Linked DNA regions of Homo sapiens: region 2 is linked to region 1. The links come from fine-mapping of genetic effects on gene expression. Tissue or cell type: whole blood. Region 1 holds a variant in brackets; the other region holds the start of a gene. All regions are shown on one strand. Distances are from middle to middle.

Region 1 (5,535 bases):
GGGACACGGATCCCACTGTGCAAGCATTAGTCGTGATTGTTTTGCTGATGGCCTACTTCACTCCTCACTTCACTTCTGAGGAAGGCTCTATTAGAACCCTCACTTTACAAATGGGGAGATAAAGCCCAGAGAGTTTGGATGATGATGTGGTTTGTCTCTGTGTCTCCACCCAAATCTCATCTTGAATTGTATTCCCATAATTCCCACCTGTTGTGGGAGGGACCCGGTGGGAGATAATTTGCATCATACTGTTCTCTTGGTGGTGAATAAGTCTCATGAGATCTGATGGTTTTATCAGAGGTTTCCACTTTTGCATCTCTTCATTTTCTCTTGCTGCTGCCATGTAAGAAATGCCTTTCATCTCCCACCATGATTCTGAGGCCTCCCCAGCCATGTGGAACTGTAAGTTCAATGAAACCTCTTTTACTTCCCAGTCCTGGGTGCGTCTTTATCAGCAGCATGAAAAGGGACTAACATAGTAAATTGGTACCAGGAGTGAGGTGTTGCTGAAAAGATACCTGAAAATGTGGAAGCGACTTTGTAACTAGCTAACAGGCAGAGATTGGAACAGCTTTGAGGGCTCAGAAGAAGACAGGAAAATGTGGGAAAGTTTCCAACTTCCTAGAGACTTGTTGAATGGCTTTGACAAAAATACTGATAATGATATAGACAATGAAATCCAGGCTGAGATGGTCTCAGATGGAGATGAGGAACTTCTTGGGAACTGGAGCAAAGGTGACTCTTTTTATGTTTTAGCAAAGAGACTACTGGTATTTTGCCCCTGCCCTAGAAATTTGTGGAACTTGGAACTTGAGAGAGATGATTTAGGGTATCTGGTGGAAGACATTTCTAAGCAGCAAGGCATTCAAGAGGTGACTTGGATGCTGCTAAAGGCATTCAGTTTTGAAAGGGAAGCAGAGCATAAAAGTTTGGAAAATTTGCAGCCTGACAATGCAATAGAAGAGAAAATCCCATTTCCTGAGGAGAAATTTGAGCTAGCTGCAGATATTTTCATGAGTAATGAGGAGCCAAATGTTAATCCCCAAGACAATGGGGAAAGTGTCACCAGGGCATGTCAGAGACCTTTGTGGCAGCCTCTCCCATTACAGACCCAGAGATCTAGCAGGAAAAAATGGTTTTTTGGGCAGGGCCCTGAGTACCTGTACTGTATGCAGCCTAGGGACTTGGTGCCCTGCGTCTCAGCTGCTCCAGCCATGGCTGAAAGAGGCCAACATAGAGCTTTGCAGTGGCTTCAGAGGGTGCAAGCCCCAAGCCTTGGCAGTTTCCACGTGGTGTTGAGCCTGCAGGTGCACAGAAGTCAAGAATTGAGGTTTGGGAACCTCTGCCTAGATTTCAGAAGATGTATGGACGCCTGGATGCCCAGGCAGAAGTTTGCTGCAGAGGCAGGGAACTCATGGAGAACCACCGCTAGGGCAGTGCAGAAGGGAAATGTGGGGTTGGAGCTCCCACGCAGTCCCTACTGGAGTACCACCTAGTGGAGCTGTGAGAAGAGGGCCACCGTCCTCCAGACCCCAGAATGGTAGATCCACCTACACCTTGCACTGTGTGCCTGGAAAAGCTGCAGACATTCAATGCCAGACTGTGAAAGCAGCCAGGAAGGAGGCTGTACCCTGCAAAGCCACAGGGGTGGAGCTGCCCAAGATTATGGGAACCCACCTCTTGCATCAGCATGACCTAGATGTGAGACCTGGAGTCAAAGGAGATAATTTTGGAGCTTTAAAATTTGACTGCCCTGCTGGATTTTGGACTTGCATGGGCCCTGTAACCCCTTTGTTTTGGCCAATTTCTCCCATTTGGAATGGCTGTGTTTACCCAATATCTGTACCCCCATTGTATCTAGGAAGTAACTAGCTTGCTTTTGATTTTGCAGGCTCATAGGCAGAAGGGACTTGCCTTGTCTCAAATGAGACTTTGGACTGTGGACTTTTGGGTTAATGCTGAAATGAGTTAAGACTTTGGGGGACTGTTGGGAAGGCATGATTGGTTTTGAAATGTGAGAACATGAGATTTGGAGGGGCCAGGGATGGAATGATATGGTTTGGCTCTGTGTCCCCACCCAAATCTCATCTTGAATTGTACTCCCATAATTCCCACGTGTTGCGGGGGGGACCCAGTGAGAGATCATTTGAATTTTGGGGTGGTTTCCCCATACTGTTCATGTAGTAGTGAATAAGTCTCACGAGACCTGATGGTTTTATCAGGGGTTTCTGCTTTTGCATTTCCTCATTTCTCTTGCCACTGCCATGTAAGAAGTGCCTTTGGTCTCCCACCATGATTCTGAGGCCTCCCCAGCCATGTGGAACTGTAAATACAATTAAACCTCTTTTTCTTCCCAGTCTCAGTTATGTCTTTATCAGCAGTGTGAAAATGGATGAATACAGATGACTTGCCTGAAGGTCATACAAACGCCCTGCTGCAGAAGGTCCCCCTTGACAGCCATGGCCCTCTGCCTGTAGCCCCCACTCTCTGCTTCATTTTCTCAGCTCTTCTGCAAGGCCACTGCAGCTCACATGGCTGTAAGCTTCCCAGGGCCTCTTCACGAGGCTGTAGGTCTCTCTTTATGTCTTGTCAGGGCTCTGAAGCACAGCAGCACCAATGAGAAGCTCTTGAGCTAAGGGGCTCTGGGAAGGGAAGGTCTTTGGCCAGTTTCCTGGAGACAAAGCCCAAGGGCAGAGTCTCTGTGCCTGTTCCTTTTCTCTGTTCTCTGTTCT[C/G]TCTCTGAGAGGCACTTTTGAACTTCTTTTAACCCTGCTGGTGGTGTAGACAATACACTAATCCCAGCTCATGTTTGGTGGGGGTGGAGGAAGAGAAGGCCCCCAAGGGAAGTGAAATAATCCACATAGCAAGCAGGCAGGACCTGTGTGCCGGGACCCAAGCAGCTGGAAATGTGAGGCTGTGCTGAGTGTTCTTGGGTTGGAGGCCACTCAGACTTGGAGGAAAGAGAGCTGCAGTGAACGTGAATGTGACAAACGTGCAGTGAATGTGACAAAGCTGAGTTCTAGACTTGGCTCTGCTACTGACCGGCAGCGTGACCTTGCCCGGTCATTTAACTCTATCAATTTTCTCATGTGCACAATGGGAGGAAAGTCTAATGCCCAGGATACAGTGGGATAAAATTATAATGCTGTGTCAAAAATAATATATCATCATAACAATGTGAATTTATGTGAATATGAACAACATGAAATTGCCAAATCGATTTGGATGGGAATTCTGGGCAATATAGGCTTGACTATAGTCTTTGGTCCCTGTTTAAAATGCATTCTTGGTCTTCCTTTACTAAAGCTGCTTTTTTAGCAGCTCTTTCTTGTCTTGCCTGAGCTAATGGGAGAAAGGTGGCATGTGTGAGCCACAATGTGGTCACCGTGATAAGGGATGCTGAGTGCCCAGGAGGGCAGACCCAGCAGGGGAGAGTTCTTCTCAGCTAGGCCTAGGGTAACTAACGGGCAAAGACTGACAAGGTGGACCGGCTGGAGATGGAGCGAGGGCAATTTCTCTGTGTCTCGTAGGAGAAGATAATGTGGATTGGCTGCCTCCACCTCATGCCTTTTGGCACTGCAGAAGCTTCATTTTTCAGAATTAGGACCCAGTGTTCTGAATGCCAATTAAGATGATTTAATTAGAAACTGTTGTAGGACATTGAGAGGGTGAAAGTGAGGCAGAGCTCACCTTCCTGTCCTTTTGTATATTTTCTGTGGAAAGCAAGGAGATGGGGCCAGGCGTTTCTCCACCACCGTGTCCTAGGCCCCTTCCCCACATTTGTGGGGTTGATGGCAGTGGCAGTGGTGTGTTCTCAAACTCAGAGCTCCTCCTGCCTCTCCAGCCCTCTGATGGTTGTGTAAGCAGCAGGATCCTGAATGAAATCCTTTGGCATCTGCTTAGAATAGCTAGAAGAGCTTCTGAGCCTACACTGAGCCTTGCTGGGGGGAATGGCCTGAGGTCTTTGCTGCTGCAAGGCAGGCTCCCTGCAGAGGCCTCTAAGGGGACAGCTCAGGAATGACACCCCACCTACCTTATCTCTCTCAATCCCTTCTGGAAGGGGTGGGGTGGGGTGATGAGGCACCTGGGGTGGGAGTTCCTGAAAGGAAGGGATGGCTTGTTAAAGAGGTACTGCTTAAAAAAAAAAAAACAACAACCCTGAAACCCTGGGGGTTTTTTTTCACTCTGCTTAACATGATTACCTCTTCCTGGCTTTAGGAATATCATTCATAGGCCCCTTTGCACAAGTAAAACAGGCTAGAGTATTGAAAGCCTAAGGGAAAAACAAACAAAAATGTCCCCCTACCCAAAGTCAGAAAAATTCAAATGCTCCAAATCCAGGGGTCCAAACTGAGATTCTGCTTCCCTGGCCTGCTGGAAGCCTCTGCCTGGAGTGTGTCCTGATCACTGCTAAGGTTCCCCCTCTTTCCTTCCTGTCCCTGCCCTCCCCTTCCAAGGCAGGATTCGGGAGGAGTGTTGTTTAATTGTCCCCAGGTAGACAGAGCAGTCTTGACCTTTCCTTAGCCGCCCACAGGCATGGAGGGAAACAGCTTTTCTAGCAAGAGAAGTGACAATAATGGTGACATTTGTTAGCATTCAATATGTGCCAGCCTTAAGTCATCATCTCACCCAGCCTTATGTCATCAGGCAAAGGTGAAGAGTTCCTTCTTACTGCATGCCTTCTAACTCTCCCTAAGTGAAAAAATAGCTTTCTTAATTTTAAATGAAAAAAAAGTGTTATTTAAAGCCAGTATTAGGGGAATTTTCTCTTTAAAATGGCATTTGACCAAGAGTCTTCTCATTTCCCTCTAAAATACATAATAACACACAGAAAAAGGCAAAACTGACAGCAGCAGCAGAAACCAAGACAGGTAGTAACTCAATTGCCAGAGAAATTTTACCGACTACCTGTAATAGTCATGGAGCTGAGGTCAGAAACATGATTTGAAGCAAGCACATGTCTTGCTTTTTGAAACAGAGCAACAATAAGAAATTGGTAAAAGGTCCTTTAGCCTTATCCTGCTTTTTGCACCATTGACTCAGAGACCTAGTGTCTGTATCAATCAGCAAACTAGACAGGGATCCCCTTTCTTCAAGGCATTGTGTTTTGAGATAGCTGTGTGTCCCCATCCTTACTCCAAGGGTGGACTCCATTCGGCTGGCATTGTACTGGACTACAAGGTATTTAGGACTCAGGAAACAAAAAAGCAGTAAAGAGAGGATGTTATCAGTTGCATCCCAAGAGGTCTGGTCCCACAAAGGAAGAGCAATAAGCAGGAATAGCAAACACAAGGAGAGCAATGCATTCTGGGACCTAAAGATGTTCACATACTTCAGGCAGCCTGGAACAGGAAACTCCCTACTAGACCCATAGAGCAGTATAGGATGAATGCAACTGAGCCAGTACTGTGTATATCAACCATAGTATATCACCAGCATCTAAGAGGACACTTATCCTTCAATTTTCCATGGCAGAGAGATCTTCCTACTTTCTATGTAAACTTAGGTAAGCTTTTTCATTCATCTATTTATTTATTC
Region 2 (5,535 bases), 23 kb before region 1:
ATCTCAGGCAGCGCTGTTGATAGTCCAGAAATAGGTGCCTTCACCCTTCATTCCTGCTGTGCCCTCCTCTCTAAGGTCAGTTTTCAACAAACAGGAGGTAAAAGGCAGCAAATGGTGGCTCTGCACTCTACACATTGGGCCCCTAACACTGCACAGTTCAACACACACACACACACACACAAACACACACACCCCCACCATCATGAACTGGGTGTGGGCAACCGCTCCCTTCCTGTCTGCAGATCCCCTACCCACGGGGCGACTTGCTTGCCGGGTTGACATCAGCCACGCATGGCACAGGCTCCTCCTGGGCCAAAGCTGTTCTCCTGGCCCGGCCTCAGAGGAGGCACGTTCCGTGTGGCTTCTCCACCTTTGTGGTTGGTCTGCAGTGTTGTTAGTTGGCAGCTGGGGACCTATAAGAGGCTGACCCCAGGATCTGTGCAAAAGACATGAGAATGGGACATAGGAACAGAGGGTGAAAGTAGCAAAGAAACAACACAACATGGATGGAACAAGCCATTTGCAAGGTTGTGAGTTTGTTTAAGAGTTGCTATGATGGTGTAATATGTAATTAGACTTTCCAAAGTGAAAGAAAATGTGATTTATTTCAAAAAGATTGTGACCGTTTGAAGTAATGGAGACAAGAAGGAACCAAAGAACAGGAATCTGCTGGTAACCCCAGCACTGGCTTTTAGAGGGGTTCCTTGACCAGCCATGGGAATATTGGTTCTGTTCAGCTGGTAACCCCTGTGGCAGGGACAGGGACATCACGTTTGCACAGCTCCATGGCACTGTCCACTGGGATGCCTCATGCCTTCTCTTCTAATGCTAGGCCCACCCAGCAGCAGGAACCCCTGAAGCAGTATCTGTTCCTCCTGGAAGGGATAGGGCTCATTGAAAGCCACACATTGGCCCCAGCCTGCTCCATCAGATTCTTTGGAGTTAGTCTTGAGAACCTGGTCACCTCAGGAGGCATGGATCCAATCAGCTAAAGTTGGGGCCTGCTTGGTATTTTCTGACACCACTTCTGACACCAAATGTGTGCTTTTTCCTGACACCAGCCGATTCTCTGACACCCGCTGGGCATCCAACAATTCAAACAGATTCTAACACTAACTTCCAGAGTTAGCACAGATCTCACAGGGTAAGGCCTCAGTCCCACAAGACTGCCCCCCTTCAGATGCTAGCTACAAGTGAGGTAGTGACCCCACTTCTGCCTGGTCAACTACAAATTTGGGGGTTCTGGCTAGGCAAGGTGGCTCATGCCTGTAGTCCCAGCACTTTGGGAGGCTGAGGTGGGAGGATCACTTGAAGCCAGGAGTTCCAGACCAGCCTGGGGTATAAAAAGAGATCCCATCTCTACAAAAAAATAAAAATAAAAAATTAGCCAGGTATGTTGGCACACACCTGTAGTCCCAGTTATGCTGGGGTTATGCTGGATGTGACAGAGGCTGGGATGTTGGGGCTGAGAACTGAGGATCACTTGTGTCCAGGAGTTCAAGGCTGCATTGACTTATGATCGTACCACTGCACTCCAGCCTGAGTGACAGAGGGAGACCCTGTCTCAAACAAAAAATTAGGGGGTTTCTGCAACAACCTCTCAGTTTTCATAATTCACTAGAACAATTCACAGAACTCAGAAAAACACTGTACTTCCTATTCTTTTATTGTAAAGGACAAAAACAGCCTGATGAAGAGGTACACAGGGCAAGGCCCAGTGGGGTCCCAAGTGCAGGAGACTCTGTCTCTGTGGAGTCAGGGCATGACACCCTCCTGGCATGTGGATCACCAATCCCTAAGCTCCTTGAATCTCATTTTTTAAGAGTCGTTATAGCCCAGACCCCAGGCCATCTCCCATACCTGGAGGTCTGGGAGTAGGGAATGGGAGTGGGTGGCTGAAAGTCCCAGTCTTCCAAAGTCTAATCCCATGTTTGGTCTTTCTGGGACCAGCCTCCAGCCTGAAATTATCTAAGGGTCCACCCTGTGTCACCTCATTAGCATAAACCCAAGTGTAGTCCTAAGGGGCTTATTATGAATAACAAAAAACACTCCTGTCACCCAGGAAACTCTAAGCGTTTTAGGAGTTCTGTGTCAGGAACTGAGATGAAGACCAGATATATTTTTTACAGAGTTGTCCCTTGGTATCTGCAGGGGATTTGTTTCAGGACTCCCATGGGTACCAAAGTCCACAGATGCTCAAGTCCCTTGTACAAAATCATGTAGTATTTTTATATAACCTCCGCACATCCTCCTGTATACTATAATTCAGTTGTGAGTCCCCAAGTGGCTGGTCACCCCGCTTCCTCCTTTGACCTGCAAATATCGGCCGCACTGACCTGGCCCCTCTTTTACCTGACTCCTTTTACTTAAGAGGTTCTGAGGCTAGAATTAAAGGTCAGCCATAGTCATAAGGATGTTTTCTGTGCAAAGCTGAGACCCCCTTCCTAGGTGCCAGTCCCAGCCCCCAGAGAAGAAGAGGTGTGTTTGGGGTTATGCTGGATGCGGCAGAGGCTGGGATGATGGGGCTGAGAACTGACGGGAAGGTGCTAATGGGAAGAGGAAGAAAATAGGGCAGATGGGTATCTGGGAGCCTCTAGGGGAGGGGCCCACTGGGGCGGGTTTCTGCAGAGTCAGGCAGGGAGGGAGGAAGAGCTGGGAGGGTGGTCAGGAGCATATAAGTGTGGGTGTCTCAGCTTTGCTTCCACTGCCATTGGTCCACGGGACGGCCCTTCCAGGAGCCAGTGGCTGGGAGCAGTGCTGGAGGATCAAGGAAGCAGAGATGGACGGTGAGGCAGTCCGCTTCTGCACAGATAACCAGTGTGTCTCCCTGCACCCCCAAGGTGAGAAAACTGGGGCCCCAGCTCTTGCCCAGTGAGGGAGTAGCCTGCCTGTCCTTTGGCCCTCTGCCATAAGGCAGCTTATTGCTGTCTTATTGCTCTCCCCAGACCCTTGTCCTTGGGGATGCAGACCTGGCAAGAGAAAGGGGATGAACTTTGAATTCAGATGGTCCTGGCTTGGAATCCCGGCTCTGCACACTGAGCTGGTCCTGTGAGGCCTCCCTCCCTTCCTTTCTTCTTTCATTCAAACTACACTTTTGTTGCTCTGTGCTCTGTGCCAGGTTCTGTGCCCTGTGCACCACCAAAGCCTCCTTGAGATTTGGAGATCGGTGGTCTCGGTCTCAGAGCTCCTCAGCTCTGTGTTGCTACCATATCCACATCTAGCTCTGGTGAACAGCCCAAAGTGTTTTGTCTTCCTTCTCCATAACCACCTGCATGATAAGCATGGCAGGAGTTATCATCCCCATTAGACAACCCAGGAAACAGAATCAGAGAGGCTGTGTCTCAGCCTGCACAGCACCCTCTTACCTTGCACAGCACCCTCTCACCTTGGACACTGCCTTCTCCCCTGCAGAGGTGGACTCTGTGGCAATGGCTCCTGCAGCCCCCAAGATACCGAGGCTCGTTCAGGCTACCCCGGCATTTATGGCTGTGACCTTGGTCTTCTCTCTTGTGACTCTCTTTGTAGTGGGTAAGCCCCCAGGTGACCCAAATCTCACTAACTTTCTCTCCTTTCAGCACAAAGTCCCCAGGGGCCCCAGATGCACACTCTCTGGGCCTCTCTGCTCCCAGAAAGATCATTCCACCTCCAGCTCCAGGCCCAAGCCACAGCTTCCCTGGGAACAGATAAAGGCCACTGTCCAAGGGGGAGCCTCCCAAGAACTGAGGTTCATGAGGGAAACCCTGGGAGGGTCTTTGCTGCTATCTCCCCGGTTCTGGAACTCTACCTCTGTGTGGGACAGCGTATCCTCCCAGGCTCAGGGCTGGGGATTTGCTGACCTGGAAAAATGGAATGTCTCAGTTCAACAGCAGACAAGACCTGTTCCGAAGCCTGTGCAAGCCGTAATTCTGGGAGACAACATTACTGGGCATTTACCTTTTGAACCCAACAGTGAGTAGCCACAGTGGGGGTGGGGTGCAGAGGGAACTGGGGCCTTCAGATGCTCAGACCCTAGGATGAGCTTCTCTCCTGGTACCCTCTGACCACTGAATGGGCTCCACCATCCTCACAGAAAGAGATAATTTTTTAAAAACACAGTTTTATTGAGGTCTAATGGTGTATATATTTAAAGCATACAATCTGTTAAGTTTTGACATATGTGTGTGCCCCTGAAACCATCACCACAATCATCATCACATAGTCATCCTCCTCACCCCAAAGTTTCCTTGTGGCTCTTTGTAATTCCTTCCTCTCCCTTCCTCTCCTCATCCCTGGGCAGCCACAGATCTACTTGCTGTAACTATAGATTAGTTTGCTTTTTCTAGAGTTTTATAGATAAGAGATCATAGAGTATGTACTCTTTGTTCTTTGCTAGTCATGTGATTTGCAAATATTTTTCTCTCAGTCTGTGACTTGTCTTGTCATTCTCCTAACAAGATTTTAATTTTGATAGTCTAATTTATCATTTTATTTCTGTTATGGATTATTCTCATGATCTCGTATGTGAGAAATCTGCCTAATCCAAGGCTACAAAGATGTTCTCCTTTGTTTCTGGAAATTGTACAGTTTTTAGTTTTAGTTTTTGTTTTTGTTTTTTGACGGAGTCTCGCTCTGTCACCCAGGCTGGAGTGCAGTGGCGTGATCTCGGCTCACTGCAAGCTCTGCCTCCCAGGTTCATGCCATTCTCCTGCCTCAGCCTCTGGAGTAGCTAGGACTACAGGCGCCCGCCACCACGCCTGGCTAATTTTTTGTATTTTTAGTAGAGACGGAGTTTCACCGTGTTAGCCAGGATGGTCTCGATCCCCTGACCTCGTGATCTGCCCACCTCAGCCTCCCAAAGTGCTGGGATTACAGGCGTGAGCCACCATGCCCAGCCCGGTTTTTAGTTTTACATTTAGGTCTCTGCCTCATTTGAGTTAATTATTGTATAATGGTGTGAAATTGATTGTTCCAGCACCATTTGTTGAAAAAGTTATCTTTCTCCGTGAATTGCCTTTGCACCTTTGTTGAAATTCGATTGTCCATATGTGTGGGGGTCTACTTCCGTATTCTCCATTCTGTCGCATTGATTTGTTTGTCTATCTTTACAAAGCAGAATCTTTGACTGAACTCCCAGTACCTTGAAAGGTCCCCTCTCTTACCTTAGCACAGTAACTGAGGTCTCACACATCTACATAGGCAGTGCATGAGAAATAGTACATGGATGCTCCAGAAAGGGTCCCTGCCATCTTGGGTTTTTCTCCCTATTCCTGAGGGGAGACTGGAATCAGAAGGGGATCATGGATGTGTGAGATTAGGTCCTAGTTCATGAGGTGAACAAAGGATGCTAGCAGGACCAGAGGTAGATGCATGTGAGGTTGGTGGGAAAGACCTTGCAGATTAAAGGGGCTGTGGGGTCTCCTTCAACGACCCCAGCGCAAGGCCTTTTACTCAGGTTTCCTGTATCCTCAAACTGTTCTGTAGGGACCCTTGCCCTATGTAACACTGGGGGTGCTGGCTCTTTAAAAGGCCATCTCAGCTGAGGTCCAGTGTTAGTTA

The links. PIP is the estimated chance that this variant, and not a neighbour inherited with it, causes the effect.
Region 2: CLEC4F starts here. The variant in region 1 is fine-mapped to the expression of CLEC4F in whole blood (INTERVAL, PIP above 0.99).

Annotation. Positions count from the first base shown.
Region 1 is chr2:70,794,867-70,800,401 of GRCh38, reverse strand. No RefSeq gene overlaps it. Among named protein-coding and RNA genes, the nearest start is that of FIGLA, 7.0 kb to the right of the region's middle. RefSeq lists an enhancer at 1-316. The variant C/G (reference allele first, on the strand shown) is at 2,733.
Region 2 is chr2:70,817,768-70,823,302 of GRCh38, reverse strand. It overlaps CLEC4F (C-type lectin domain family 4 member F), which reads left to right and starts at 2,704. Exons shown (of 7, transcript NM_173535.3): 1 at 2,704-2,840; 2 at 3,412-3,528; 3 at 3,859-3,948. The coding sequence starts at 2,780.